Regions from separate parts of the Homo sapiens genome. Here regions 1 and 2 are each linked to region 3. Evidence: fine-mapped expression QTL. A gene starts in region 3. Each other region holds a variant in brackets. All regions are shown on one strand. Distances are between the middles of the regions. Region 1 holds the start of CWC25 (CWC25 spliceosome associated protein). Region 2 overlaps CWC25 (CWC25 spliceosome associated protein). Region 3 holds the start of PSMB3 (proteasome 20S subunit beta 3).

Evidence for each region.
Region 1: its variant is fine-mapped to the expression of PSMB3 in whole blood (INTERVAL, PIP 0.94).
Region 2: its variant is fine-mapped to the expression of PSMB3 in whole blood (INTERVAL, PIP above 0.99).

The regions. Positions count from the first base shown.
Region 1 is chr17:38,817,070-38,827,777 of GRCh38, forward strand. It overlaps CWC25 (CWC25 spliceosome associated protein), which reads right to left and starts at 8,252. Exons shown (of 10, transcript NM_017748.5): 1 at 8,097-8,252; 2 at 3,832-4,004. The coding sequence starts at 8,114. It overlaps MIR4727 (microRNA 4727), which reads left to right and starts at 8,769; the gene lies at 8,769-8,823. RefSeq lists an enhancer at 6,960-7,591. The variant C/T (reference allele first, on the strand shown) is at 5,016.
Region 2 is chr17:38,803,122-38,813,829 of GRCh38, forward strand. It overlaps CWC25 (CWC25 spliceosome associated protein), which reads right to left. Exons shown (of 10, transcript NM_017748.5): 4 at 9,674-9,743; 5 at 7,347-7,474; 6 at 6,581-6,644; 7 at 3,644-3,855; 8 at 3,176-3,274. Among named protein-coding and RNA genes, the nearest start is that of PIP4K2B, 8.9 kb to the left of the region's middle. The variant C/CA (reference allele first, on the strand shown) is at 5,961.
Region 3 is chr17:38,749,079-38,757,382 of GRCh38, forward strand. PSMB3 (proteasome 20S subunit beta 3) reads left to right here and starts at 3,663. Exons shown (of 6, transcript NM_002795.4): 1 at 3,663-3,751; 2 at 4,072-4,256; 3 at 6,805-6,912. The coding sequence starts at 3,749. It overlaps TRN-GTT2-5 (tRNA-Asn (anticodon GTT) 2-5), which reads right to left and starts at 2,776; the gene lies at 2,703-2,776. It overlaps LOC100287808 (a long non-coding RNA gene), which reads left to right. Exons shown (of 1, transcript NR_149004.1): 1 at 1-2,674. It also overlaps a transcript of PCGF2 not described here and the pseudogene RNU6-866P.

The DNA of each region.
Region 1 (10,708 bases), 69 kb after region 3:
GTGGCTCACACTTATAATCCTAGAACTTTGGGAGGCCAAGACAGGCTGATCACGAGGTCAGGAGATCAAGACCAGCCTGGCCAACACAGTGAAACCCCGTCTCTACTAAAAATACAAAAAACTAGCCAGGCGTGGTGGTACACGCCTGTAGTCCCAGCTACTCGGGAGGCTGAGGGAGGAGAATCGCTTGAACCCGAGAAGTGGAGGTTGCAATGTGCTGAGATCATGCCATTGTACTCCAACGCAGGTGACAGTGCGAGACTCGGTCTCAAAAAAAAAAAAATAAGAATTGATCATGGGGCCGGGCGCTGTGGCTCACACCTGTAATCCCAGCACTTTGGGAGGCCTAGGCGGGCAGATCACTTGAGGTCAGGAATTCAAGACCAGCCTGGCCAACATGGTGAAATGCCATCTCTACTAAATATACAAAAAAATTAGGCCAGGCACAGTAACTCACGCCTGTAATCCCAGCACTTTGGGAGGCAAAGATGGGCGGATCACAAGGTCAAGAGACCAAGGCCATCCAGGCCAACATGGTGAAACCCTGTCTCTACTAAAAATACAAAAATTAGCTGGACCTGGTGGCGTGCATCTGTAGTCCCAGCTACTCGGGAGGCTGAAGCAGGAGAATCGCTTGAACTCAAGAGGCGGAGGTTACAGTGAGCCGAGATCGCACCACTGCACTCAAGCCTGGTGACAGAGCGAGACTCTGTCACACAAAAATAATAACAATAATAATAATAATAATTAGCCAGGCGTGGTGGCACACGCCTGTAATCCCAGCTACTCAGCAGACTGAAGCAGGAGAATTGCTTGAACCTGGGAGGTGGAGGCTGCAGTGAGCGGAGATTGTGCCACTGCACTCCAGCCTGGGAGACAGAGCAAGACTCTGACTCAAAAAATAATAATAATAATAATAAATAATAGGCCGGGTGCAGTGGCTCACGCCTGTAATCCTAGCACTTTGGGAGGCTGAAGCGGGCAGATCACAAGGTCAGGAGTTCAAGACTAGCCTGACCAACATGGTGAAACCCCATCTCTACTTAAAATACTAAAATTAGCCAGGCGTGGTGATGTGCGCCTGTAATCCCAGCTACTCAGGAGGCTAAGGCAAGAGACCCGCTTGAACCCAGGAGGCAGATGTTGCAGTGAGCCAAGATCGCACCACTGCACTCCAGCCCGGGCGACAGAATGAGACTCCATCTCAAAAAATAAAATAAAATAAATAACAAAAATAAAACCAGCCGGGCACTGTGGCTCACATCTGTAATCCCAACACTTTGGGAGGCCGAGGCGGGCGGATCATGAGGTCAAAGATCGACACCATCCTGGCTAACACAGTGAAACCCCGTCTCTACTAAAAATACAAAAAATTAGCCGGGCGTGGTGGCGGGCGCCTGTAGTCCCAGCTACTCAGGAGGCTGAGGCAGGAGAATGGCATGAACCCGGGAGGCGGAGCTTGCAGTGAGCCGAGATCGTGCTGCACTCCAGCCTGGACAACAGAGCGAGACTCCATCTCAAAAAAAAAAAAAAAAAAAAAAAAAAGAACTATACAAAACAAACAGATGAATACTTAAGTCATCTAAATACATTAGCAGTAAAGACCAAAAAGAGAAGGGGCAGAGAGAACCAAATGCTGATCTTAGTGTTTTACAATATTGTAGGACATGTGATAGGGCAAAACAAAACAAAGCATATAAAATCACCTTCCCCCATTCACGACAGACAAGCAGGCATGAGTCTGCAACAATGCTGGCTCCTTTCTCTACAGTTGTGCATCTGTACTCTGACCTCATTAATCAGACTCCACAAAAGCCCAAATTTCTGATAAATTGAGCACATGATGTGTAATGCTTTGGTGAATAAAAATGTCAAAACAATTTTTACCTTTGGATAGTACCTCGGCTTATGACTAATGGGTATTCAGTCTAAAATCAATTTTTACTTATTTATTTATTTATTTATTTACTTAGAGGCAGAGTCTCACTCTGTCACCCAGGCCGAAGTCAGTGGCAAAATCATAGCTCACTGTAGCCTCGAACTCCTGGGCTCAAGCAATCCTCCTACCTCAGCCTCCCAAGTAGCTGGGACTACAGGCACATGCCACCATGCCCAGCTAACTTTTCCTTTCTTTCTTTTTTTTTTTTTGAGACGAAGTCTTACTCTGTCACCCAGGCTGGAGTGCAATGGCGTGATCTCAGCTCACTAAAACTTCCAACTCCTGAGTTCAAGTGATTCTCCTGCCTCAGCCTCCCGAGTAGCTGGGATTACAGGCATGTGCCACCATGCCTGGCTAATTTTTGGTTTTTTTTTTTTGAGACGGAGTCTCGCTCTGTCGCCAGGCTGGAGTACACTGGCGCAATCTCAGCTCACTGCAACCTCCACCTTCTGGGTTCAAGCGATTCTCCTGCCTTAGCTTCCCGAGTAGCTAGGACTACAAATGCATGCTACCACGCCCAGTTAATTTTTTTTTTTTTTTTTTAGTAGAGATGGGGTTTCACCGTGTTGGCCAGGCTGGTCTCGAAATCCTGACGTCAGGTGATCCGCCCACCTCGGCCTCCCAAAGTGCTAGATTACAGGCGTGAGCCACTGCACCCAGCCTCTATTTTTTTTTTGTTTGTTCGTTTTTTTGAGATGGAGTCTCAATCTGTCGCCCAGGCTGGAGTGCAGTGGCATGATCTCAGCTCACTGAAACTTCTGCCTCCCGGGTTCAAGCAATTCTCCTGCCTCGGCCTCCTGAGTAGCTGGGATTACCGCCACACCCAGCTAATTTTTGTATTTTAATAGAGACAGGGTTTTACCATGTTGGTCAGGCTGGTCTCGAACTCCTGACCTCAAGTGATCTGCCCGCCTCGGCCTTCCAAAGTGCTGGGATTACAGGCGTAAGCCATCGTGCCTGGCTAATTTTTTTCTATTGTTTTGTAGAGATGGGTTCCTACTACAGACTGGTCTAGAACTCCTGGCCTCAAGTGATCTGCCTGCCTCAGTCTCCCAAAGTGCTGGGATTATAGGCATAAGCCGCCACACTCAGCCTATATATTTTTAAACAGAGATGGAGCCTCACTACATTACCCAGACTGGTCTCAAACTCCTGGGCTCAAGTGATTTCTCAGCCTCCCAAAATACAGCAATTACAGGCATGAACCACCGCACCTAGTCCCCAGTTTTAGTCTATCTGTTATTTTATTTTATTCTGACTTAAGAATACACTGCATATTGTATGCTTTTTATTTTCTCAAACATATTTACTCCCATCTCCTTTTATGAGATGGATGGGGTAGTTATTATCTGCTACTCGTATCCTATATTATACAACAGGAAATTGAAGCAGGGTAAAATCTAGTGGCATTGGCCGTAATCACTCAGCTTTTATTGACAAGCATACCATCCACCTTCTCTCATGGGACCTCACTCCCTGCCCCCTGTCCCCGCCGACCCAAGCAAGCCTGAAATACATTAACAAAGGCAGGACTGCATCCTCAACATATGCTGAGAAGCAGGGTAGAGCAACCATCCTCCATCACGGTTATCAGCCATCTACTGTGAGCTCGGCTTACAGCAAGTCCTTACGTGTTATCTCATTTGATTCTCAACAAACCTTAAGAAGGCGTTGGGTATTATTACTCCCTGGTCCTACTGAAGTAACCAAGTCTCTCAAATTTGATCACAGTTCCACAGCTAGTACATGCAAAGCCAACCTTAGAATCCAGGTGAGTCTGGCATTACAACCCATGCCCTTAAGCACTCAGCCATTATACAACACTGGATGATGCATCTCAGGACAGCTCTGCAATTCCCTACACACAAGCGCACCCCCAGCTCCTCACTTACTTGACGGCCCCAACATCCTCCGCATAGCGCTGCATCTCTTCCCGGGCTCTCTCTTCTCGCAGCTCCCGCTGAAGCTCCTCAATCTTCTTCCGCTCAGCCTCATGCTTCTGCTCGGCCTTCCACACTTTCTCCACATTCCTGAGGGTCTGCGGGTGCCAGCTCTTCTTCAGATTCTGTGGTAAATAAAAAGAAGGTGATGATAATTCGGGGGGTGACTGAGTGGTGGGTATAACTAGCCCTGCCTCACCCACCCTTCCATACCCAAGGCAGGCGTGTGAGGGCAAGATGTCTTCAACAATGGCAAGGTTTTCTTCCAATAATCTCTCACACATCTAGAGGGGAAGGGGAGCTTGTTCAAGTGTATAAAGCTTCAGGACAGGTCGGGCGCAGTGGCTCACACCTGTAATCCCAGCACTTTGGGAGGCGGAGGCGGGAAGATCACTTGAGGTCAGGAGTTTTAGACCAGCCTGGCCAACATGATGAAACGCCTCTACTGAAAATACAAAAATTAGCTGGGCGTGGTGGCAGGTGCGCCTGTAGTCCCGGCTATTCAGCAGGCTGAGGCAGGAGAATCGCTTGAACCAAGAGGCGGAGGTTGCGGTGAGCCGAAACTGCGCTGCTGCACTACAGCCTGGGCGACAGAGCAAGACTCCGTCTCAAAACAACAAGAACAAGAACAAGAAAGCTTCAGGATAGAACGGGTCCTTCCTGAATTCCCTTCAAACAGTTTTAACCTTAAAAGCATACAAGTCATCCTTCCACTAGCCATACCTAAATCAGAGTTGGTGATGACAAGACAGGAGGAATGCAGTAATGAGCAGGAAGGCACATATTTTGAAAGAGAACAGAACTCATGCACTTCTGACAGTGGACATTCATTCTTTTTTTTTTTTTTTTAAAGTCTTACTCTGTCACCCAGGCTGGAGTGCAGCTATCTCGGCTGACTGCACCCTCCGCCTCCCGGGTGCCAGCAATTCTCCTGCCTCAGCCTCCTGAGTAGCTGGACTATAGGCACGTGCCACCATGCCTGGCTAATTTTTGTATTTTTTAGTAGAGATGGGGTTTCACCACATTGGCCAGGCTGGTCTCAAACGCCTGACCTCATGATCTGCCCGCAGTGGCCTCCCAAACTGCTGGGATTACAGGGGTGAGCCACCGTGCCCAGCCTTTTTTGTTTCTTGAGA[C/T]GGAGTTTCACTCTTCTTGCCTAGGCTGGAGTACAATGGCAGGATCTCGGGTCACGGCAAACTCTGCCTCCTGGGTTCAAATGATTCTCCTGCCTCAGCCTCCTGAGTAGCTGGGATTACAGGCATGCGCCACCACACTCGGCTAATTTTGTATTTTTAGTAGAGATGGGGTTTCTCTATGTTGGTCAGGCTGGTCTCAAACTCTCGACCTCAGGTGATCCGCCTGCCTTGGCCTCTCAAAGTGCTGGGATTACAGGCATGAGCTACCGTGCCTGGCATGGACATTCATTCTTTGGAACTCAACCTACCTTAGCTTGGTCTACTTCACCTGCCCTAAACTTGCATGGTTTACAACCCACCCAGAATCTCTTTCAACTTTCCTTCCCAGGAATCTCTCCTTGGTTCTGATCTCCCCATTCACCCTCAAAGAACACTTCTCTCTCTCCTCCCCATCAGATACTGCTTTGGTTCACTTTCCCAATAATGAAATGTTCCCCAAAGTAAGTAATATCTAAAGACAATTGTAAACTAGCCTGGTGATGTGTGAAGGGGAGATGAGGGGGGTAGATTTCCAAACAGAGGGGAACAGTACAGACAAGTGCAGTCCTGGTGGTGAGAAAGAACATAGCAATAATTCAGTGTGGCTGGAGATGTGGCAAGCTGATGGTGCAGGGACGCAAGAAGAAGCCAAGTGAGAAAGGAGCAGAATAAGGGCCTTATAAGCCATGTAAAGGGATTACAGGCATGCGCCGCCACGCCTGGCCAATTTTTTTTTTTTTTTTTTGAGATGTCGCCCAGGCTGGAGTGCAGTGGCGCAATCTTGGCTCACTGCAAGCTCCACCTTCCAGGTTCACGCCATTCTCCTGCCTCAGCCTCCTGAGTAGCTGGGACTACAGACATCCGCCACCATGCCCAGCTAATTTTTTTTGTATTTTTAGTAGAGACGGGTTTCACCGTGTTAGCCATGATGGTCTCGATCTCCTGACCTCATGATCTGCCCGCCTTGGCCTCCCAAAGTGCTAGGATTACAGGTGTGAGCCACCACACCCAGCCTGACTCCAACTTTTTTTTTAACTTTTTTTTTTTTTTTTTTGAGACGAGGTCTTGCTCTGTCACGCAGGCTAGAGTGCAGTGGTGCAATCTTGGCTCACTGCAACCTCCACCTCCTGGGTTCAAGCGATTCTCCTGCCTCAGCCTCCCAAGTAGCTGGGATTACAGGCGCCCGCCACTGCTCCCAGCTAATTTTTGTATTTTTAGTAGAGACGGGGTTTCACCATCTTGGCCAAGCTGGTCTCAAATCCTGACCTCGTGACCCACCCGCCTCTGCCTCCCAAAGTGCTGGGATTACAGGCATGAGCCACTGCACCTGGCTGAGACTCCATCTTAAAAAAAAAAAAAGAAAAGAGAATGGACTGGAGAGGACCAGGAGACCAATTAAGAAAATAAGATCATGTCCACAAGGTACTTGGCATGTGGAAAATGTTCGGTCAATGAGAGCTCCCTTTTCTTCCTTTTCTCTTCCCCTCCTTGTCCTGCCTCTCCCCTTCGTCAGGTCATTCAGTTGGTTGGTTGTGGGTCAGTCCGTCAGTTGGTCTGACCATCCGTCCATCCTTCCGTCCTTCCTCCCTCACTCCCTCCCTCTTTCTCCCTCTAACCCTTCCCATCTTGTCCTCCCTGCCTCAAGCATAGATTATTTTGCTCCCCAGGGAGAAAATCTTCTGGAGTCATTTTTGGCTGTCACAACTGGTGGAGACGGGTGTTAGTGGATAGCTCCAGTCTAGTGGCTAGAGGCCAGTGATGCTGCTAAACATTCTACAATGCACAGGACAGCCCAACTACCACCACTACCACACACCCCCAAAGAATTATCTAGGCCAAACTGTCAAGAGCGCTAATGTTGAGAAACCCTGGATTAGAGCTTTCCTGTCCTTAAATGCAGTTATGTGAAGAATACACTAAATTGGATGAAACTAGATGGAGTCCTGGCACTCACTGTGATTGAGAACACATGACAAACTAATAGGTTTACTGGGCAGGCGGCTAAGCTGATCTACTTGCTGGTTCAATTAGCTCCACTTTCCGGAGGCTAGCATTTTCCCAACCTTGCCCCATGCTCTTGTGGGTACATTTACCCTATTTGGGGCCTTAGCGCTTTACAAATGAACGTTTCAGTTTAAGAGACATTGCCACATAACTTATATTAAGTGGTATGAATTCAAAAGCAAGCTCTGCCACTACAGATCAGAATCCAGCACTGAAGGAGGTGTGGAAGTCAGAAAGATGGACAGGAAGATCCCTTCAGGCTTAAAAAGGACCCCAGGGCCGGGCGCTGTGGCTAACCCTTGTAATCCTAGCACTCTGGGAGGCCGAGGCGGGCGGATCACTTGAGGTCGGCAGATCGAGACCAGCCTGACCAACATGGAGAAACCCTGTCTCTACTAAAAATACAAAATTAGCCGGGTGTGGTGGCGCATGCCTGTAATCCCAGCTACTCGGGAGGCTGAGGCAGGAGAATCGCTTGAACCCAGGAGGGAAAGGTTGCGGTCAGCCGAGATCGCGCCATGGCACTCCAGCCTGGGCAACAAGAAACTCCGTCTCAAAAAAATAAAAAATAAAAAACGACCCCAGGGCATGGCTTAGGGTAGGGAGAATGGGGCACAAACCACCCCTACTTCAGTCCAGGACATGACTCTGAACTCTCACCCAAGGAAGAGAGGTGTGTGGCAAGACAAGATATACAAAACAAAGTGTGGTGACACGTCCTCCATATCTACCTCCTTTCCTAGCCATGGCTCCATCCGCCCCCTCCCCGGTCTTCCCAGAATTTACAGCCGGTAGAGCCGCAGTCAACAAACACGCAAACACCACCTGTCACTGTTCGCGACACACCTCGGACTTTCCCAAATCTCAGTCCCACCCCTCCATTGCCCTAAGGATCCATCCCCTCTTCAGGGCAACGGCCTCCTCCCGGCGAAAGCAAAGCTGCGTTGCCATGGTTATCCACTCCTTCCTCTACCCCCACCCCCTGCCAATTTCCGTCCCGGCCTCAGTCCTCCCCCGCCCAGGCCTCCCTCCACTCACCAGGTCTCCGCCCCCCATGACGGTGGAGACGATTCCTCACTACGCGGATCTGGAAGATTTCGGGAGGATCAAGAGAAAACGTAGAGAAATAGTTCGGGGGCTACCTCGCGGGATCTAGTCCCAGGAGCCGTCAACTGCCAGTTTCACCACCGCTCTAGAGGTCACTTCCGGGAGGGCGTCATCTCACCGCGTCGGCGTCGCGGAACGATGACGTACAGGGCTCGGTCGCGCTTTGTGACGTTGGCGTTACTTGCAGATTTTGCAAAGGTCCGGGCTCCGCTGTCGAGGCCTTTGCTGTCGAGGTCTCATTTTGGCTGCTTCGGGTCGCCACGTTGCCTGATGTCCCAGACTCTCTGTTGAAACGCCACAACTCTGTTCAGTGATGGGTTGCCGTGGGCCTGTGCCCACGGCTGTGTTGCCATGGCAGCTCACCAGGGCATTCGGCTCAAAGCTCCACGTAGTCTCTGCTAGACCTAAGGTGGACCAGACTAGGCCTCCTCCCCTCACCCTGCACACACCCCCACGCTCCAGTTTTCCAAAACGGCTTTGCAAACTGGCGCTTTCCTCAGACCTTGACTCACAGCAAATCCCCTTATGCCAGGCCTATTTTACGAAGCTAAATAGAAACCATCAAATCGAAATTCCATCAGCTTCCGTTTGCCAAACTTTTAAAATCTGCCAGCTTCCACAGTGGCAGATTTTCCCATAGTGGGAAGCTGGCAGATTCCTTTCCCTTCAGTTACTATGTGTTTTTGGCATGTTTTTCTTTTTTCTTTTTCTTTTTCTTCTTCTCCCTTTGTTTTTGTTTTTTGAGAAGGAGTTTTGCTCTCCCAGGCTGCGGTCGAAGCTGACTGCAACCTCCGCCTCCCGGACAGCAATTCTCCTGCCTCAGCCTCCCAAGTCGCTGGGATTACAGGCGCCCGCCACCCGCCCGGCTAATTTTTGTATTTTTTGTAGAGACAGGGTTTCACCATGTTGCTCAGGCTTGTCTCGAATTTCGACCTCAAGTGATCTCCCCGCCTCAGCCTCCCAAAGTGTTGGGATTACAGACATAAGCCACCGCGCCTGGCTATTTTTATTTTTGTAGCAACAGGGTTTTGCCATCTTACCCAGGCTTGTCTCAAACTCCTGGACTCAAGCAATCCTCCTACCTCGGCCTCCTAAAGTGCTGGGATTACAGGTGTGAGCCACTGCGCCCGACCTGTTTTGTAATTTTCAGAATAGAAGTTTTGCACATCTTTTGTTAAATTTATTCTAAATGTTGTATTTTTTGTGATGCTATTTTATTTATTTATTTATTTATTTATTTATTTATTTATTTATTTATTTATTTATTTATTTCGAGACGGAATCTCACTCTGTTGCCCAGGCTGGAGTACAGTGGCGCAATACCAGCTCACTGCAACCTCCGCCTCCTGGGTTCAAGCGATTCTCCTGCCTCAGCCTCCCGAGTAGCTGGGATTACAGGCATACGCCACCACGACCTACTGATTTTTGTGTTTGTAGTAAAGATGGGATTTCACCGTGTTGGCCAGGCTGGTCTGGAACCCCTGACCTCAGGTGATCCGCCTACCTTGGCCTCCCAAAATGCAAGGATTACAGGCACCCGGCCTGTGATGCTATTTTAAATAAAATTTAAAAATTTTAATTTTCCAATTGTTTGCTACTAATAGATAAGAACGTGCTTTTGTATAGTAACCTTCTATTTTACAGGCTTGCTAAATTCACTTATTAGTTCTTATGGCTTTTTAAAAATACTTATTGCCCGGGCGCGGTGGCTCACTCCTGTAATCCCAGCACTTTGGGAGGCCGAGGCAGGTGGGTGGATCACCTGATGTTGGGAGTTTGAGACCAGCCTGGCCAACATGGAAAAACCCCATCCTACTAAAAATACAAAAATTAGCCGGGCGTGGTGGCGGGTGCCTGTAATCCCAGCTACTTGGGAGGCTGACACAAGAGAATCACTTGACCCTAGGAGGTGGAGGTTGCTGTGAGCCAAGATGGCACCACTGCACTATAGCCTGGGCGACAAGAGTGAGACTTTGTCTCAAAAAAAACAGAAAGAAAGAAAGAAACAGGCTGGGCTCGGTGGCTCACGCGTGTAATCCCAGCACTTTTGGGAGGCTGAGGCGGGCAGATCATCTGAGGTTGGGAGTTTGAGACCAGCCTGACCAACATAGAGAAACCCCGTCTCTACTAAAAATACAAAATTAGCCGGGCGTGGTGGCACATGCCTGTAATCCCAGCTACTCTGGAGGCTGAGGCAGGAGAATCACTTGAACCCAGGAGGCAGAGGTTGTGGTGAGCCAAGATAGCGCCATTGCACTCCAGCCTGGGCAACAAGAGCAAAACTCTGTCTCAGAAAAAAAAAAAAAGAAAAGAAACAAACAAAATACCTATTAAATATTTACTTAAATGTATTTGAATAAAGTTTACTTAAAAGAAAAGCAGGCTCACTGCTGTAGTCCCAGCACTTTGGGAGGCCGAGGCAGGTGGATCACTTGAGCCCAGGAGTTGGAGACCAGCCTGGGTAACGTGGTAGAACCCTGTTTCTCAAAAAATACAAAAATTAGCAGGACATAGTGGCATGTGCCTGTAGTCCCAGCTACTCA
Region 2 (10,708 bases), 55 kb after region 3:
GGAACTCATCAGGAACCTAAACTTGTAGCAATTATATCCCAATGGTTTGCTCAACAATTGACAGAAGAACAGAAGACTAGGTTATCCATGTAACTGTTAACATCTACCATCTAACTACCCATTGGAGACTAGAAATTCATGACACAGCCCATGAGTACACTACTTTAGGACTAAGCTAGAAGCCAGAAGCTGAAGGAATAACTTAGCCTCAGAAAATAATAAATAGGGCCAGGCATGGTGGCTCACGCCTGTAATCCCAGCACTTTGGGAGGCCAAGGCGGGCAGATCACCTGACGTCAGGAGTTCGAGACCAGCCTGGCCAACATGGGGAAACCCTGTCTCTACTAAAATTACAAAAATAAGCTGGGTGTGGTGGTGTGTGCCTGTAATCCCAGCTACTTGGGAGGCTGAGGCAGGAGAATCGCTTGAACCGAGGAGGCGGAGGTTGCAGTGAGCCAAGATCGCACCACTGCACTCCAGCCTGGGTGACAGAGTGAGTCTCTGTCTCAAAAAAAAATAAAAACCTCCAAACGAAAAACAATTTACTATTAAAAATCTGCTTCAGATAATAAATGAAAGATATTAGAGCATTCAAATGAGAGTAGGAGGCTTAAAAAAAAAAAACAAAAACGATTGCCAGGCACAGTGGCTCTAGCCCGTAATCCCAGCACTTTGGGAGGCTTAGGCAGGAGGATTGCTTGAGTCCAAGAGTTCAAGACCAGCCTAGGCAACAAAGTGAGACCTCCCATCTCTGCAAAAAAAAAATTTTTTTTTAATTAGTTGGGCATGGTGGCACCCGTGTAGCCCCAACTATTTGGAAGGCTGAGGTAGGAGGATCAGTTGAACCTGGGAGTGTGAGGCTGCAGTAAGCCATGATCGCCCCACTGCACTCCAACCTAGGCAACAGAGTGAGACCTTGTAGGGAGAAGAAAGAAGTTATCAAAGAAATAATACAAGAAAATTTCCTAGAACTCAAAGACATGGTTTAGATTGCAGGAAGCAAATACTGACACTAGGAAAAAATATACAAATCATACAAGAAAGGAAATGTAACCTCCATATTCTGCTTGGCTTAGGAATGAAAAGTATCAGTAAACAATATTTATATATCATACAAGTATGAATCCACATACTCACTGAACCAAAAATTCTGATGTAACCATATTGGAAAGATAGGGATAGAAGAAACATGGGACTAGGAGTGTATGAGAGCTCATTTACACTAACAGATTATTTACTATAACAGTAAGAAAATATCTAAGATCTGGCCGGGCACGGTGGCTCACACCTGTAATCCTAACACTTTGGGAGGCCAAGGCAGGTGGATTGCCTGAGCTCAGGAGTTCCAGACCAGCCTGGACAACACATTGAAACCCCATCTATATTAAAAATACAAAAATTAGGGCCAGGTGCTGTGGCTCATGCCTGTAATCCGAACACTTTGGGAGGCTGAGGCGGGCAGATCACCTGACCTCAGGAGTTCAAGACCAGCCTGACCAATATGGTGAAACCCCATCTCTACTAAAATATACAAAAATTAGCTGGGCATGGTGGCATGCGCCTGTAGTCCCAGCTACTCGGGAGGCTGAGGCAGGAGAATCGCTGGAACCCGGGAGGCAGAGGTTGCAGTGAGCCGAGATCGTGCCACTGCGCTGCAGCCTGGGCGACAGAGCGAGACAAAAAAAAAAAAAAAAAAAAAGGAAGCCCGGGCGTGGTGGCTCACGCCTGTAATCCCAGCACTCTGGGAGGCCGAGGCAGGCAGATCACCTGAGGTTGGGAGTTCGAGACCAGCCTGACCAACATGGAGAAAGCCTGTCTCTACTAAAAATACAAAAATTAGCTGGGTGTGGTGGCACATGCCTGTAATCCCAGCTACCTAGGAGGCTGAGGCAGGAGAATCACTTGGGCCCAGGAGGCGGAAGTTGTGGTGAGCCGAGATTGGGCCATTGCACTCCAGCCTGGGCAACAAGAATGAAACTCCATCTCAGAAAAAAAAAAAAAAAATTAGCTGGGCGTGACAACATGTGCCTGTAGTCCCAGCTACTCGGGAGGCTGGGACAGGAGAATCACTTGAACCCCGGAGGCAGAGGTTGTAGTGAGCCAAGATTGTGGCACTGCACTCCAGCCTGGGAGATACAACAAGATGCTGTCTCCAAAAAAAACAAAGAAAGAAAAAAGAAAATATCTAATATCTAAAATTAATGGATGAAGAGGCAGCAACATATTTGTATTTTTAGGAATATGTAGCTATGAAAAGAAACTACTGAAAAAGCTGAAAGTAGTTGCCTTTGGGTAGCATGACTAAAAGTGGGATCAGGCAGGGCAAAGAACTACTAGCTTTTGTTTTTTTAAATGTTTTTAAAATAATTTTTTGTAGAGATAGTGTCTTATTATGTTGCTCAGACTGGTCTGGAACTCCTGGCCTCAAGCGATCCTCCTGCCTTGGACTCTCAAACTGCTGGGATTACAGGTATGAGCCACCACACCCAGAGAGAATAATTGAGGGGTTTTTTAAAGAGGGTTTAATTTAAGAGAGGGTCTCGCTCTGTCGCCCAAGCAAGAATGCAGTGGCTTGATCGTAGCTCACTGCAACCTTAATCCCTTGACCTTAAGTGATCCTCCCTGCCTTAGCCTCCCAAAGCGCTGAGATTACAAGCATGGACTGCTGTGTCTGGCTTGGTTTTTGTTAAGAGACTTTTTTTTTTTTTTGAGACAAAGTCTTGCACTGTCGCCTGGGCTGCTGTGCAGTGGTGAGATCTCAGCTCACTGTAACCTCCAACCCCTGGGTTCAAGCAGTTCTCCTGTCTCAGCCTCCCAAATAACTGGGATTACAGGCATGTGCCACCATGACCAACTAATTTTATATTTTTAGTAGAGATGGGGTTTCACCGTGTTGGTTAGGATGGTCTCGACCTCCTGACCTCAGGTGATCCACCCACCTCAGCCTCCCAAACTGCTGTGATTACAGGCGTGAGCCACCACGCCCAGCCTTACCTCGTCCTTTCAATGTCCTCACATGGCTGGAGGCAGGGGACGCAGACCCTTACAGGTTGGCAAGATAAATAAAAGTTGGTTCGTCGAAAAGGTAATGATGGATTATCCATTTGCCATGGTTTGAGCCCCTTCTAGATTCAGGCCTGCAAAATGTGGTTAATCAACTGGGCTCCTGACTCACCTGGTGTATCCGGGAGCATGTCGCCTTTGGTAGACCTCTTTTTTAGGTGATGGGCTCCTAGTTTGGCCTGTCTCTCTCCTGTTCACCTTAGAGTTGTGCCTGTAGCAGACACAGAAGGCAAAGAGGAAAAAGCCTTTTTGGTCCAGGGGCTTACACTGAATCCCTCAAACAATGCAAGATGAGCTAATGGTCTTAGAGGTATAATCTAAGTGTGAGAAAAACAAAGGTATAGGGTTTGATGTTAGACTCACCCCAGAGCTCCCAAAGCACAGAATACACCTACAGATATGTGGCTTTGGATGCCTGAGCTTTACATTGAGGTGGAAAAAAAAAATGATGTAAAGGAAATACCAAAGCAAAGACATTTGGGAAAGTCAATGGACGGACATCACCAAAAGCAAAAACAAATGCCTGCTGGGACCAGGCCCCCACAGTCACAGGTTATTTCCCAGTGAATCCCACACTCACAGTTTGCTGGGTCTTGGGGACCGTGACCTTCTGCCCAGGGATCGAGACCTCCTGTCCCGGGACCCTGCTTCCCTGGTGCTCTTCTTGCTGGCATGTCTTGGGGGTGAGTGGGAGGAGCTTCTGGATCTGGAATGGTTCTTCATCCCATGCCCTCTCTTTTGCTCTGCTGTCAGAGGACCCTGAAGACCCTGGTTACGGTCAGAGTTCCGGACCTACATCATTAAGGAAAAGAGAAGTTATTCACATGGAAAATCCAGCTATTCAGGAGAAAACGCGGCCGGGCTCAGTGGCTCACGCCTGTAATCCCAGCACTTTGGGAGGCCGAGGCGGGGGGGATCACCTGAGGTCAGGAGTTCGAGACCAGCCTGGCCAACATGGTGAAACCCTGTCTCTACTGAAAATTAAAAAATTAGCTGGGCGTGGTGGTGGGCACCTGTAATCCCAGCTACTCAGAAGGCTGAGGCAGGAGAATTGCTTGAACTCAGGAGGTGGAGGTTGCAGTGAGCTGAGATCGCACCACTGCACTCCAGCCTGGATGACAGAGCGAGACTCCGTCTCAAAAAAAAAAAAAAAAAAAAGAAAAGGCAGTGAAACAGGAAATGTTACATAAGGAGCTCACTGAGCACACCAATATCATCACATAGAATTATCACAGAGAACTGTATAAACTTAGTTATCTGCAGAATCCCCTAAAAGAATCTCCTTCGGTCAGCCAGGTGCAGTCGCTCACACCTTGAATCCCAACACTTTGGGAGACGGAGGCAGGAGGACTGCCTGAGATCAAGAGTTTGATACCACCCAGAGCAACTAGTGAGACCTTGTCTCTACAAAATATTTAAAAATTAGCTCGGTGTGGCAGCACACGCCTGTAGTCCCAGCTACTCAGGAGGTTGAGGCAGAAGGATCCCTTGAGCCTAAGAGGTCAAGACAGCAGTGAGCCAGGATCACACCACTGCACTCCAGCTTGGATGAGAGAGAAAGACCCTGTCTCAAAAAAAAAAAAAAAAAAGATGGCTGGGTGCTGTGGCTCATGCCTGTAATCCCAGCACTTTGGGAGGCTGAGGCAGGCAGATCACGAGGCCAGGAGATCAAGACCATCCTAGCTAACATGGTGAAACACTGTCTCTACTAAAAATACAAAATAATTAGCTGGGCATGGTGGGCACCTGTAGTCCCAGCTACTTGGGAAGCTGAGGCAGGAGAATGGCATGAACCCAGGAGGCAGAGCTTGCAGTGAGCCGAGATGGCGCCACTGCATTCCAGCCTAGGCGACAGAGTGAGACTCCATCTCAAAAAAAAAAAAAAAAAGAAAAGAAAAGAAAAGAATATACCTGGCTTGGCTGGGTGCAGTGGCTCACGCCTGTAATCCCAGCACTTTGGGAGGCCAAGACGGGCAGATCACAAGGTCGGGAGTTCGAGACCAGCCTGGCCAATATGGTCAAACCCCTCTCTACTAAAAATACAAAAATTAGCCGGGTGTGGTGGTGGGTGCCCGTAGTCCCAGCTGCTCAAGAGGCTGAGACAGGAGAATCACTTGAATGCAGGAGGCAGAGGTTGCAGTGAGCCGAGATCGCACCATTGCACTCCAGCCTGGGCGACAGAGCGAGACTCCCTCTCAAAAAAAAAAAAGAAAGAAAAGAATACACCTGGCTTAGCTCTTCACTATAGGTTAAGGAAGAGCGAGATGCAGAAGCATGGAGGACAGGACCCAAGGTTAAAAATACAGAAATATGAGGCCAGGCATGGTGGCTCACGCCTATAATCCCAGCACTTTGGGAGGCCGAGACAGGCGGATAGCTTGAGGCCAGGAGTTTGAGACCAGCCTGACGAACATGGAGAAACCCTGTCTCTATTAAAAATACAAAAATTAGCCAGGTGTGATGGCAGGTGCCTGTAATCCCAGCTACTCAGGAGGCTGAGGCAGGAGAATCGCTTGAACCCAGGAGGCAGAGGTTGCAGTGAGCTGAGATTGCACCATTGCACTCCAGCCTGGTTGACATGGAGAAACCCTGTCTCTACTAAAAATACAAAATTAGCCGGGCATGGTGGTGCATGCCTGTAATCCCAGCTACTCGGGAGGCTGAGGCAGGAGAATTGCTTGAACCCAGGAGGTCGAGGTTGTGGTGAGCTGAGATCGCGCCATTGCACTCTAACCTGGGCAACAAGAGCAAAACTCCACCTCAAAAAAAAAAAAAAAAAATACAGAAATACAGAAGTCAAGCCAGGTGCCTTGAACTTGTACTTCCAGCTACTCAGAAGATTGCTTAAGCTCAGGAGTTCGAGACCAGCCTAGGCAAAATAATGATGCACTGCTACT[C/CA]AAAAAAAAAAAAAAAGAACCCAGCAGATTTATGTTTGTCAAAAATCATCAACCTACACACTTAGGCCAGGCACGGTGGCTCACACCTGTAATCCCAGCACTTTGGGAGGCCGAGGCGGAGGGATCACCTGAGGTCAGGAGTTCAAGACCATCCTGGCCAACATGACGAAACCCTGTCTCTACTAAAAATACAAAAATTAGTCGGGCGTGGTGGTGGGCGCCTGTAATCCCAGCTACTCGGGAGGCTAAAGCAGGAGAATAGCTTGAACCCGGAAGGCAGAGGTTGCAGTGAGCCGAGATCGCGCCACTGCACTCCAGCCTGGGTGACAAGCGAGACTCCGTCTCAAAAAAAAAAAAAAACAAAAAAACCTATACACTTAAAATGTGTGCATTTCATGTAAATTATTTGTAGAGGGATGGGTAGAATGTCTCAATGCCCCATTGGTGGTTTAGTCTCTCTGCTCAGAGGGTCATCAGCCACAAGAAGGTGCTCAGCGATAAGAATGGGCCTGTTTCCCAGCAGCCCAGGCTTCACTGCCCACCTCCCTGCTATCCACATTGTCCAAGTGGCACATCCCACAGTCCCACAGTCACTCCTTTCAAGAAGCCCACATCCCTACCTGTAAGCCATATCCAGGGACTTTGGACAAAACAGGGGAGGAATTTGCCATCTTCTTCTGTGATCTAAGAGATCAAAATACACACACTCATTGAAAAAGAAAATATATATAGGTCCAATTTAAATATCTTATGCTGAACTATGCTTCTTGCCTCCAATGTGACCTTTCCGCCTCCCAGCAGTTACCTGGCAGTACGTTTCTCTATTTGGACTGTCTATGCCGAAAAATGCATCAGCACAATCAAATTTTCCTGTGAAAAACTGTGGGCCTCGCTTCTAAGCCCCAACGCCTGAACACCTTCTCCTCTCACTTCATGCTGCTATTCCAGGGACAAATAGTGACTCAGCAGCGGCGGAGCTGACTGCTTCCACAGGAAGACATGCAAAATGGGCCCACATCAGCCATCAGTCCATTAAAAAAAGCCTATATAAAGCCCACTTCAGTCTTGAAGGAATCCTAAGCTGAGATGAAACAGAGTCACCCCCAGGATGTCTGACCTACCTAAGACCTACTAGGCTAAAGTCAGCATTATTAAGGGTCTCTCTCCAGCAGCATGGCCAAGATACCCACTCACATTTAGCATCTCCAAGGAACTCTAGCATTAGATGGCAAGCTCTGTGGGCACTGGGCCCATGTTCAAGTGTTCATCACTGAATGCCCAGTACCTGGCAGCTTCCAGCACAGGGCAGGTGTTCATGTCTGTGGAATGAATGAGTGAATGAGCAAGTGAATCAACGAGAAGGGAGGCCAGTCGCCACATGCTCACCTCCCTGCACTGTGCTCATCCTCGCTGCTGGAACGATCACTACTCGAGCTTCTGTGCTTATGTTTCTTGTGCTTCTTTTTCTTCTCCTTCTTTTTCTTCTTCTCCTTTTTTTCCAGACTCATTTGCAACTGGAAAATGCCGAGAACACAAGCACACAAGATTACTGAGACCAGCCAGCGCAGTGGCTCATGCCTGTAATCCCAGCACTTTGGGAGGCTGAGTGGAGCAGATCATCACTTGAGGTCCGGAGTTCGAGACCAGCCTGGCCAACATGGCAAAACCCCATCTCTACTAAAAATACAAAAATCAGCTGGGTGTGGTGGTGGGCACCTGTAATACCAGCTACTTGAGAGGTGAGGTACAAGAATCACCTGAACCAGGAGGCAGAGGTTGCAGTGGGCCGAGATTGTGCCACTGCACTTCAGCCTGGGTGACAGAGTGAAACTGTGTCTCAAAAAAAAAAAAAAAAAAAAAGATTACTGGCTGGGCATGGTGGCTCACGCCTGTAATCTCTCAGCACTTTGAGAGGCTGAGGTGGGAGGATCACAAGGTCAGGAGTTCGAGACCACCCTGGCCAATATGGTGAAAGACCATCTCTACTAAAAATACAAAAATTAGCTGGGTGTGGTGGTGTGTACCTGTAGTTCTAGCTACTCGGGAGGCTGAGGCAGAAGAATCACTTGAACCCAGGAGGCAGAGGTTGCAGTGAGCTGAGATCACGCCACTGCACTCCAGCAGCCTGGGCGACAGAGTGAGACTCCATCTCATTAAAAAAAAACAAAAAGCCCAGGCGGGGTGGCTCATACCTGTAATCCCAGCACTTTGGGAGGCCAAGGCGGGTGGATCACAAGGTCAGGAGAAGGAGACCATCCTGGCTAACACGGTGAAACACCATCACTACTAAAAATACAAAAAATTAGCTGGGCATGGTAGCAGGCGCCTGTAGTCCCAGCTACTCAGGAGGCTGAGGCAGGAGAATGGCATGAACCTGGGAGGCGGAGTTTGCAGTGAGCTAAGATCGTGTCACTGCACCACTGCACTCCACCTTGGGCAACAGAGCGAGACTCCGTCTCAAAAAAAAAAAAAAAAAAAAAGATTACTGAGACCCCTATCAGTCTCCTTTGAGGGGCGTGGCTCATGCACAAACTGCCTGACTCCATGCCTCTGGGTCTACAGAAGTCCAGGACATTATAGGGGTTCCCTGTCAACACACCAGGGGAAGGGTCTTAACCCTGGCCGTGCACTAACACCCCCAACTACTGAACTGGTATCTGGTAGGTGAGACTAAGAATTTGTGTTTTTAAACAGTCACCAAAACCACTGCCTAGGAGTTTCCATTCTGTGTCACAGGAACTCCAATTCCACTGAAAGCAGTCAGGAACTATAAGGTCAATCTTTAACTTTCCTTACCAACTGATCCAAGACACAATTACATAATATGTCATGTGAATGGTAAGTGGGCCCTAGAAGCCTTATTTTTTTTTTTTTGAGACAGAGTTTCGCTCTTGTTGCCCAGGCTGGAGTGCAATGGCGCAATCTTGGCTCACAGCAAACTCCATCTCCCGGGTTCAAGCAAGTCTCCTGCCTCATCCTCCCAAGTAGCTGGGATTACAGGCATGAACCACCACCCCGGCTAATTTTGAATTTTTAGTAGAGACAGGGTTTCTCCGTGTTGGTCAGGCTGGTCTCAAACTCCCAACCTCAGGTGATCCACCCGCCTCGGCCTCCCAAAATGCTGGAATTACAGGCATGAGCCACCGCGCCCAGCCCCTAGAAGCTTTATACCACGACCAAGGGCATACTCCAACCTCCTGAACACACTGCATGGTAATGCTTTCCACAGGCTTAGCCCACACTCTTCTTCTGGAAAAACGACATCACATGGTGCATTCTCCCACCCAAAAGACTTTCAACCAAAATCAAGCTTAATTAAGCTTAATAAACTAAGATTACATAAAATAACCAACCTGACCAATATGAATAAACCCCGTCTCTACTAAAAATACAAAATTAGCCGGGCGTGGTGGCACATCCCTGTAATCCCAGCTACTAGGGAGGCTGAGGCAGGAGAATAACTTGAACCTGGGAGGCGGAGGTTGCGGTGAGCTGAGATCATGCCATTGCACTCCAGCCTGGGCAACAAGATTGAAACTCCGTCTCAAAAACAAAAAAATGATTACATAAAATAGCCACAACATGGTCTCTAAAAGACAAAAGTTTTAGAGGCCATTCTGTTTTTCCCCTGGTAAGCTGAGAGTAAATGGAGAGACGTTCTCACGTTATATGGCTAAAAGATGCTCTTGGTGCTTATCTGGTATACTACTTACCAATTCTTTGATTTTCTTCATTTTCACTGGATTATTTAATACCTCTCGTTTTTTCTCCTCCTCCTTCTTCCTAAAGAGAGATAATTACAAAATTCATGACTATTTCTTTTCTCCAAATTCTATGGAGTAACCTTTTCTCCAAACATATACAGACAAACTGGCCCATGTTAAAATCTACATGATTAGCTGGGTGTGGTGGTGTGCACCTGTAATCCCAGCTACTTGGGAGGAGGAGAATCGCTCCCAGCTACTTGAGGGAGGAGAATCGCTTGAACCTGGGAGGCGGAGATTGCAGTGAGCTGAGATCGTGCCACTGCACTCCAGCCTGGGTGACACAGCAAGACTCTGTCTCCAAAAAAAAAAAATCTACATGATGATGGGGCTGGGTGCAGTGGCTCATCTCACACCTGTAATCCCAGCACTTTGGGAGGCTGGGGCAGGCGGATCACTTGAGGTCAGAAGTTCAAGACCAGCCTGGCCAACATGGTGAAACCTCGTCTCTACCAAAAAAAACAAAACAAAAAAATTAGCCGGGCATGGTAGCAGCACGCACCTGCAGTCCTAGCTACTCGGGAGGCTGACGTGGGAGAATAACTTAAACCCAGGAGGCGGAGGTTGCAGTGAGCTGAGATTGTGCCACTGCACTCCAGTCTGGGTGACGGAGTGAGACCCTGTCTCAAAAAAAATAAATAAATAAAAAACGACATGATGGTGTCAAAGCCAAAAATCTCTCACAAATATAAGAGATTGTCTCAAAAAAAAAAAAAAAAAAAGAGTCATGCTCAGTCGTCCAGGCTGCAGTGCAGTGGCATGATCATGGCTCACTGCAGCCTTGACCACCTGGGCTCAAGTGATACTCCCACATCAGCTTCCCAAGTGGCTGGGACTATAGGCCCCCACCACCATGCCTAGCTAATTTTTATATTTCTTATAGAGATGGGGTTTCACCATGTTGCTCAGGCTGGTCTCAATTTCCTGGGCTCAAGCAATCCATCCATCTCTGCCTCCCAAAGTGCTGGGATTACAGGTGTGATC
Region 3 (8,304 bases):
CTCGGGCAGAGAAGAACGGAGGCCCGCTGAGGATGGGAACTCAGGCTCCGGGTCTGGGACACAATAATCCGGCCGAAGGCGAGCGGCCACACTGGACTAGGAAACGAGGCGCCGGGCTGTAAGGTGGGCCCGCGCCTTTTCTCCTGCCTGGCGCTGATTCCCGCATTTTTCGCTCGCGCCCTGCGCTGCGCGCTGCCTGTGCGCCTCCCTGGGCGCGCGGGCGGGAGAGTCGGGCGAGCGCCAAGACGGCTGGGCCCGACTCCCACTGGCGCCCCGGCTCCACCTGGCGCTGGGGCTCCGGTCCGCAGTGGCTCCGGCAGGAGGGAGAGAACGAGGAGGGAGGCTTGGAAACGCCGGGAGTAGCGGTGAGGCCGACGCCGGGGAAGCGAATCGATACTGCGTTACTGGACGCCCGTGGGCCTCATGAGGATGGTCGATTCCCTCATTCGTTATTCACGATTTATTAGGGATGGCGGCCGCGTCTGTCCCTCCAGAGAGCTCGATTATCCATCCGGCCAGCAGCGCCATTAAGCGCACTGACGGTGGGAGGCTCGAGTTAGAAATTAGGATAGGAATCTTCGCCCAGTTTTGGAGCGCCTGCCTCCTCTTCCCTCGTTGCTCGCAGCCAAGGCAGCCGCGAAGCTGGGGGCCTCGGGTGAATGCTTTCGCCCTCTGGCCGGCGACCAGGAGACCTGCGCACACTGGCCGCCGAGTGACCCCAGCTCGAGCCTGCAGCCACACCAGCGGGACGGGGGCGGGGAGGAAGAGGAAGGGCGGAGAGACTTCCTTCCAGAGGGAGTGGTCCGAGAACCGGCGGGAGAAGGGCCAAGGGAAGATCCGGTCACCTGCTCCGGAGCCTGCAGGCGGAGAGGCGAGTAGTTCACCGGCCCCGGAGGAAAGGGGACCCTCCCACTGTTCCCAGGCAAATGTGTCGCCGGCATCCTGCACTCTGCCGGGGAAGACGCGCATCCACTCGCTCTGCAGGGAGGGGAACGCGGGAAGGACTCCCAGTCAGCCGCCCCTCTCTGGCTACAAGACCCCGAACAAGAGAAACCTGTAACAGGGGCTCTGCGGAGATCTGGATCCCACCCACCAACCACATGGGCACCTGGGGGGCTGCCCCTCGGGGCATTATCAGCCAGTGGGAAGGGGGTTGACGTTCCTCTGCGGCCCATGAATCCTGGAGGGCTGCCCGAGGGGCCACCGGGGTCCATCCACTTATTCTTCGGTTGTTAAGCGCCAGACAGGAGAGAACCGCTAGAGAGGAGTGTGCTAAGACCCTATTACCCACTAAAACTCCATTTTCATCTTTTGCGTCCTGGATGACTAGTCTCCACATTCCTGGCCTTTCTGGTTTCTCAGGAGAACCTTCTGACCCAACTCTTCCCACATCGAAAGAGTTTCCTAGTCTTTTGTTCTACTACTAGCCGACATAGAAAGCACCTGTCATGTGCCAGTGTCAAATACTGCGCTAGGAACTGGGAACTCAAGGCACAGGAGCCTGGCTTTTGCGCAGGGCGCTCACAGGCCGGTGGGTGCAAACCCTGAAGGACACACAGCCTGTCCCTTTAGCGCCCATCGCTTCTGGTGTGAGCTCCCGCTAAGGGTGGGTGAGTACTGGGGTGGGCTTCCAGAAGAGGCCTCCTTTGAGCCGAATCTGCAGAGACCAAGTGTCTATGAGAACTGCTCAAGAGTGCTTTGCACATTCTCCTCCACAAAGGTCGAGGCTCCCACTGCGCCCAGGAATGCGCCTCGTCAGACATTAGGCGCCCCTTGATTTTGTGTTTGCATCTCACGCGGTCCTCTAGCTGACAAGTGCATCAGAAGAGTCACAGTGGCTGTCACAAGCCAGAGACTCGCAGAGGACAGGAACGCGGGAAATCTAGGCAATTACCTCCAGCATATACCAAGAGCTATTGCGAGGATCAGATCCCTTTAAAAATGGTGACGAGACAGGAGAGGGCGGCTCCTCTAGAGCTTTCCGGAACGTCTTTACCTCTGTGTCCTTTATACCTTTTATCTCCCCCAAACAAGGTCCTTAGTCAGTTTCTCCTTCTATTTCCCCATCTTCCTCCCCCACCTCCCTGTGTAGTTCTAGGGGGAAAAAATGTGTTGTTTTCCTTTTTTTCTGATGCTTCTAATATTAAATGCGTCTATTTTCCCACTCTCCATTGTCTTGAGGTCTTCCCCTACCCACCCTGCCTAGTTCTGTCACGTCCCTTCTTTCCCTGTATCACAACAATGTTCTCCCTTTCTCACCTTTGTTTCTCTTCATACTTGTTTCTCTCTCTGTGTCTCTCTCATTCTCTTCCCTTCCAAATGTAGTATTTGGAGACTGTAATATCGATTGAGGCAGACAATAGAAAACTGTCGAACCTCCACTGTAAATTCATTCTTAATCCTATGAAAAAATGCATCCTGAAACGTGTTGCATGCACAGTGAGACAAAAACCTGTGTCTTTAGGTTTCCTGCGATCTAGCTTGGAGGCGGGTTGGGGGGGTGTGGAGGGAAGTGCTGGAGAAATTATCCCATTATTGACTGAGCAGCAAAGAATTTTCAAGAACAGTGATTCTCCTAGAAAAAGTATTGCTGCTGCCATTTCAATGCAAAATTTGGCTTTTGAGTAAAAGGCTTAGGTTTTTATCTTCCGGGGAGAAAAAAAAAACCCAAAAGACAAAAAAAAAAAAAAAAAAGGTCATAGCGTCCCTGGGTGGGCTCGAACCACCAACCTTTCGGTTAACAGCCGAACGCGCTAACCGATTGCGCCACAGAGACCGAGTCGACTACCGGCGTAGTAGTGAGCCGAGTCAATGGGAGCGAGCCTGGACGGCGCAGACGCCGTAAGAGATGCCGCCATCGGGCGAAATAAGTGGAACCCGGGGGAGAAAGGGAAGGATCCTGATGGGGGAGGGAGGCGAAAGAGCTTGGGAGGAGAGGACGCGGGACGTGCACGCCCTTCCTCCATTGGAACGGCGAGAGGTCGACTCTGGCTATCCTCAGGTTCTACCTCAAACGTGGAGAGGCGCGGAACGTCCCTTTTTAGGGTGACCTGAGATTGAGGATACGTGAAGTCGGGCCGCAGGAAGTCCCCCAAATCAGAACAAGCTTCGGCTTCCAAACTCCCTTTCACAGCTGAACCCCTGCAGCCGCAAAATACCCGCGACGCCTACACGCGACGCCTTCCCCTTCCCACCTGCATCATTAAATTTCCATTTAATGGGCGCCTCCTATATACTAGGCACTGTTGTGGGCCAGTGAATATTCCGAGCCTAGGCAAGTGCCTGGTACACAGTAAACGCAGGATTTCTGGAGTGAATAAATAAGCTAGCACGACTAATACGACGAACTCATACATCACGTTGATAAGCGTCACGGTGCCCCTTCAGCTGGGGCCGCAGCTTCCTAAACCCAGTTTCACCAGCCCACGTGCGCGCAGGCTCCGCCCCCAGTCCCTGAGGTCCCGAGTCCAGGTCCGCCGAGATCCCACTATGCACCGTGTCGCAAGTCTCTTCCGCAGCCACAGTGACTTTTCACTTCCGCTTTTCCCGCCTCCGTTTTGACTTTGCAACCAAACTACCTGTACTGGTGACCGACAGGGACGTGTGACCAATAGAAAGCCCAGATGTCCAGGAAGAGTCCGCCTATCAGCCAATGAAGAGACAGCAGTGAGAGCGGTTGCGCAGTGAAGGCTAGACCCGGTTTACTGGAATTGCTCTGGCGATCGAGGGATCCTAGTACACCGCAATCATGGTGAGATGGGGAGTTAAAGCAAAGGGGCATGGGGAAGGATTGAGAAGCGGAGGGGGTCAGGAGAGGCTTGGGGACGAAAAGGGCCTAGGGTCGATGGAAGGAAGCGGTTTCAGTTCGAGGGGAGCGGGCCCCGGTGAGGACCAAGAGGGTGAGTGCGGCTCATTGCCGCCACACAGTGCTCATCCCAGCTGGAGAACCAGGGGTTCAGACGCCTCCGGAATGGAGAACGGGCGTACAGGAGCCTCCGCATCAGGAGCTGGGCCGGGGGCTGTGGCAGCGTTTGACCCCCCGCGCTGACCCCTCCGCTCTGTCTGTCCTAGTCTATTATGTCCTATAACGGAGGGGCCGTCATGGCCATGAAGGGGAAGAACTGTGTGGCCATCGCTGCAGACAGGCGCTTCGGGATCCAGGCCCAGATGGTGACCACGGACTTCCAGAAGATCTTTCCCATGGGTGACCGGCTGTACATCGGTCTGGCCGGGCTCGCCACTGACGTCCAGACAGTGTAAGTTTCAAGGGTCCCCGCCCACACCCAGGCCTCTTCTTGGACCATCCAACCCCGGCGTCTTGACCGGCCAAGGTGTCAGTCATCTACCACACACCACCAGTGAGTTTGAGACTTTGCCGCCTCCAAAAAACATGTCCTTCCCTTTCTTTTTTTTTTTTTTAGACAGGGACTTGCTCTGTCACCCAGGCTGGAGCTCAGTGGCATGATCTCAGCTCACTGCAACCTCCACCTCCCAGGCTCAAGCGATTCTCGTGCCTCAGCCTCCTAAGTAGCTGGGACTACAGGCGCGCACCACCATGCCTGGCTAATTTTTGTATTTTTAGTAGAGACAGGGTTTCACCATGTTGGCCAGGCTAGTTTCGAACTCCTGACCTCAAGTGATCCACCTGCCTCAGCCTCCCAAAGTGCTGGGATTACAGGCATGAGCCACCACACCTGGCCTGACTTTGATTTTGACAACAATTTTGAGCAGACAAGACAAGCCCAATAGAAACATCTTGCAAGCAGTTGGGGTTTTGTTATTACATCTCAGGGTTGGGGAAGCATTGGCAATGTGCCAAATCTATGGGAGCAGATTCTGGAGAGACAAAGTCTGTAGGGAGGGAAATAATGAGCGGCAGTTTGAGAGCTGAACGTTACATTTAGCAGTGAGGGGCGAAGAGAAGCCAGAGAAGAATAAGAGAGGAAAAGAACGGTGATAGGTTTTCAGGAGGGAATACGTGGTCACAGGGGGCAGGTCCTGCAGGGTACTGGTGCCTGAGGAGCAGCAGGTCCTGGATTTGTTTCCTAGAAGGTGGAGAGACTAGCTCACAAGCGTGGGTGGATGCCTGTCAGAAAATGTTCTCATTTCGGCTGGGCGCGGTGGCTCACACCTGTAATCCCAACACTTTGGGAGGCTGAGGTGGGCGGATATCTTGAGATCAGGAGTTCCAGACCAGCCTGGCCAACATGGTGAAACGCTGTCTCTACTAAAAATACAAAAATTAGCCAGGCTGGGTGGTGGGCACCTGTAATCCCAGCTACTCGGGAGGCTGAGGCTGGAGAATTGCTTGAACCTGACAGACGGACGTTGCAGTGAGCTGAAATTGTGCCACTGCACTCTAGCCTGGGCAACAGAGCGAGACTCTGTCTCAAACAAAATAAAAAAAGAAAGAATAAAAGAAAATGTTCTCATTTCTCTTAAAACTCCCTGAGTCTCAAGAACATAACACTTACTGAGATCTCACCCAGCCTGCCCTTTTTTCCTGTCTGGTAGAGTCAGAGAATGACATCCTGGGGTTCCTGTCAGTGAAGTCTCCCGTGAGCCTTCCCTTCTGCAGTCACTGCTGTTCTCACACCATTTCCTTTTCTTCAGAGGGCTTTTCTCACTGCGTTTGCTTCCTTCTGGGCAATGACTGCTCATTTCACTAGGCCTCAGTTTCCTTACCTGGAAGATGAAGCTCAAGTCATTTCTAAGTCTCTTTGCTCTGGTGTCCTGAGACTCATTGCTTTTCCTCCAGCAGGTGTGGCATTGGTCTGCTCTATGCAGGGGCCTATCCTGGGGCTCTGAGATGGAACTGGCAAGCTGTGACCTTTTTTCCTTTTTTCACCAGAGCTGCCAAATGGCCTTTTTCTAAGGCATCTTTCAAGTCTGTTAGCACATAGCACAGCAGTTGGTGCTGCCCCCTTTTTTTTTTTTTTGTCACCCAGGCTGGTGACATAAACTTAACTCACTGCAACCTCCGCCTCCAAGGCTCAAGTGATCCTCCCACCTCACCCTCCCAAGTAGCTGGGACTACAGGTGTGTGCCACCATGCCCAGCTAATTTTTGTAGTTATTGTAAGAGGCAAGGTTTCGCTATGTTGCCCACAGCTGAACTCCTGAGCTCAAGCAATCCTTCCGCCTCAGTCTCCCAAAGTGCTGGGATTACAGGTGTGACCCACTGCGCCCAGCCTAAACATTTTTAATATGGAACGCTTCACAAATTTGCATGTCATCCTTCTGCTAATCTTCCCTGTATTATTCCAGTTTTAATATATGTGCTGCTGGCCAGGCGTAGTGGCTCACGCCTGTAATCCCAGCACTTTGGGAGGCCAAGGTGGGCAGATCACGAAGTCAGGAGATCGAGACCATCCTGGCTAACACCGTGAAACCCCATCTCTACTAAAAATACAAAAAGTTAGCCGGGAGTGGTGGCGGGCGCCTGTAGTCCCAGCTACTTGAGAGGCTGAGGCAGGAGAATAGCGTGAACCCGGGTGGCGGAGCTTGCAGTGAGCCGAGACTGACTGCGCCACTGCACTCCAGCCTGGGCGACGAGTGAGACTCCGTCTAAAAAAAAAAAAAATATATATATATATATATATATATGTGTGTGTGTGTGTGTGTGTGTGTGTGTGTGTGCTGCCAAAGCAAGCACCAGTTGCTACTTCCTAACACATGTAAGACTACAGTTTTCCCTGGGCAGGGACTGAGATGAGATGTCTCCTTATGTTTCCCTGACCTCAACAGGGTAGACACTCAGGAATATTCAATAATGACTTACTAACTCACTTTTCTCCTACCTCAGTGCCCAGCGCCTCAAGTTCCGGCTGAACCTGTATGAGTTGAAGGAAGGTCGGCAGATCAAACCTTATACCCTCATGAGCATGGTGGCCAACCTCTTGTATGAGAAACGGTGAGTGCAAGTGTAGCTAGCACTGAGGGAATGCAGACATCTTTGAATGTAGTATGGAGTAGGTACTGAGGAAGAGGACTCTCCTTGTTTTTCCATCTCTTATTTGCAGGATAATATCCTTATTTTATGGGTGTGTTTTCTTTGGGCCTGTCTGGCAACCAGATAGGAAAGAAAATACTTATGTTGGAAGAAGGCAAGGAATGCACATAGCAGATAAATTTGCATCTAGGCAAAAGAGTTAGTCCCACCAGAGTGTTCTGGGGTCTCCCAGCAGGAGCCACTCTTGCCCTAGAGCTATTCTGTCAGCACTGGCTTCTTGGGAATAGCAGGGAGCCTAGGAATGGGGTGTTCATTTTCGTCAGTTCTCCTTGAGGGCTTTATGGTGAGAAACAAGGGGCCTAACTGTAGAATTTAGTGCAGAAATCTAGGATGGAATTGAAAGGAAACCCTGTGGGTGCTTTCTACCTCTGGGCAAACCTGGGTGGCCAGAATATAAGTTGAGCTCTCTTTTTCTTTTTTTTTTGAGACGGAGTCTTGCTCTGTCACCCAGGCTGGAGTGCAGTGGCGTGATCTCGGCTCACTGCAACCTCCACCTCCCAGGTTCAATCGATTCTTCTGCCTCAGCCTGCCATGTAGCTGGGACCACAGGTCCATATCACCACACCCGGCTAATTTTTGTATTTTCAGTAGAGACAGAGTTTCAACATGTGGGTCAGGCTGGTCTCGAACTCCTGACCTCAGGTGATCCACCTACCTTGGCCTCCCAAAGTCCTATTATAGGCATGAGCCACCATGCCTGGCCTGATCTCTTTTTTTTTCTTTTCTTTTAACTTTTTATTTTGAAGTAATTTTTGTAATTTGTAAAAATACCCTTTAGCTTTCAAAAACTTTTTCTTTTTTTTTTTTTGAGATGGTGTCTTGCTCTGTCGCCCTGGTGTGCAATCACGGCTCACTGCAATCTCCACCTCCCGGGTCCAAGTGATTTTCCTGCCTCAGCCTCCTGAGTAGCTGGGATTACAGGTGTGTGCCATCACACCTGGCTAATTTTTTTTTTTTTTTTTTTTTTTTTTTAGTAGAGACAAGGTTTCACCACGCTGGTCGGGCTGGTCTTGAACTCCTGACCTCAACTGATCTACTGCCTCCGCTTCTCAAAGTGCTGGGATTACAGGCATGAGCCACTGCGCCCTGCAAAAAGTCTTATAAAGTTGTAACAATTAACTCATATTTGGATGTATATTAAATGGCTTGCTGGGCGTGGTGGCTCATGCCTGTAATCCCAGTACTTTGGGAGGCCAAGGAAGGTGGATCACTTGAGGTCAGGAGTTCGAGACCAGCCTGGTCAACATGGTGAAACCTCATCTCTACTAAAAATACAAAAATTAGCTGGGTGTG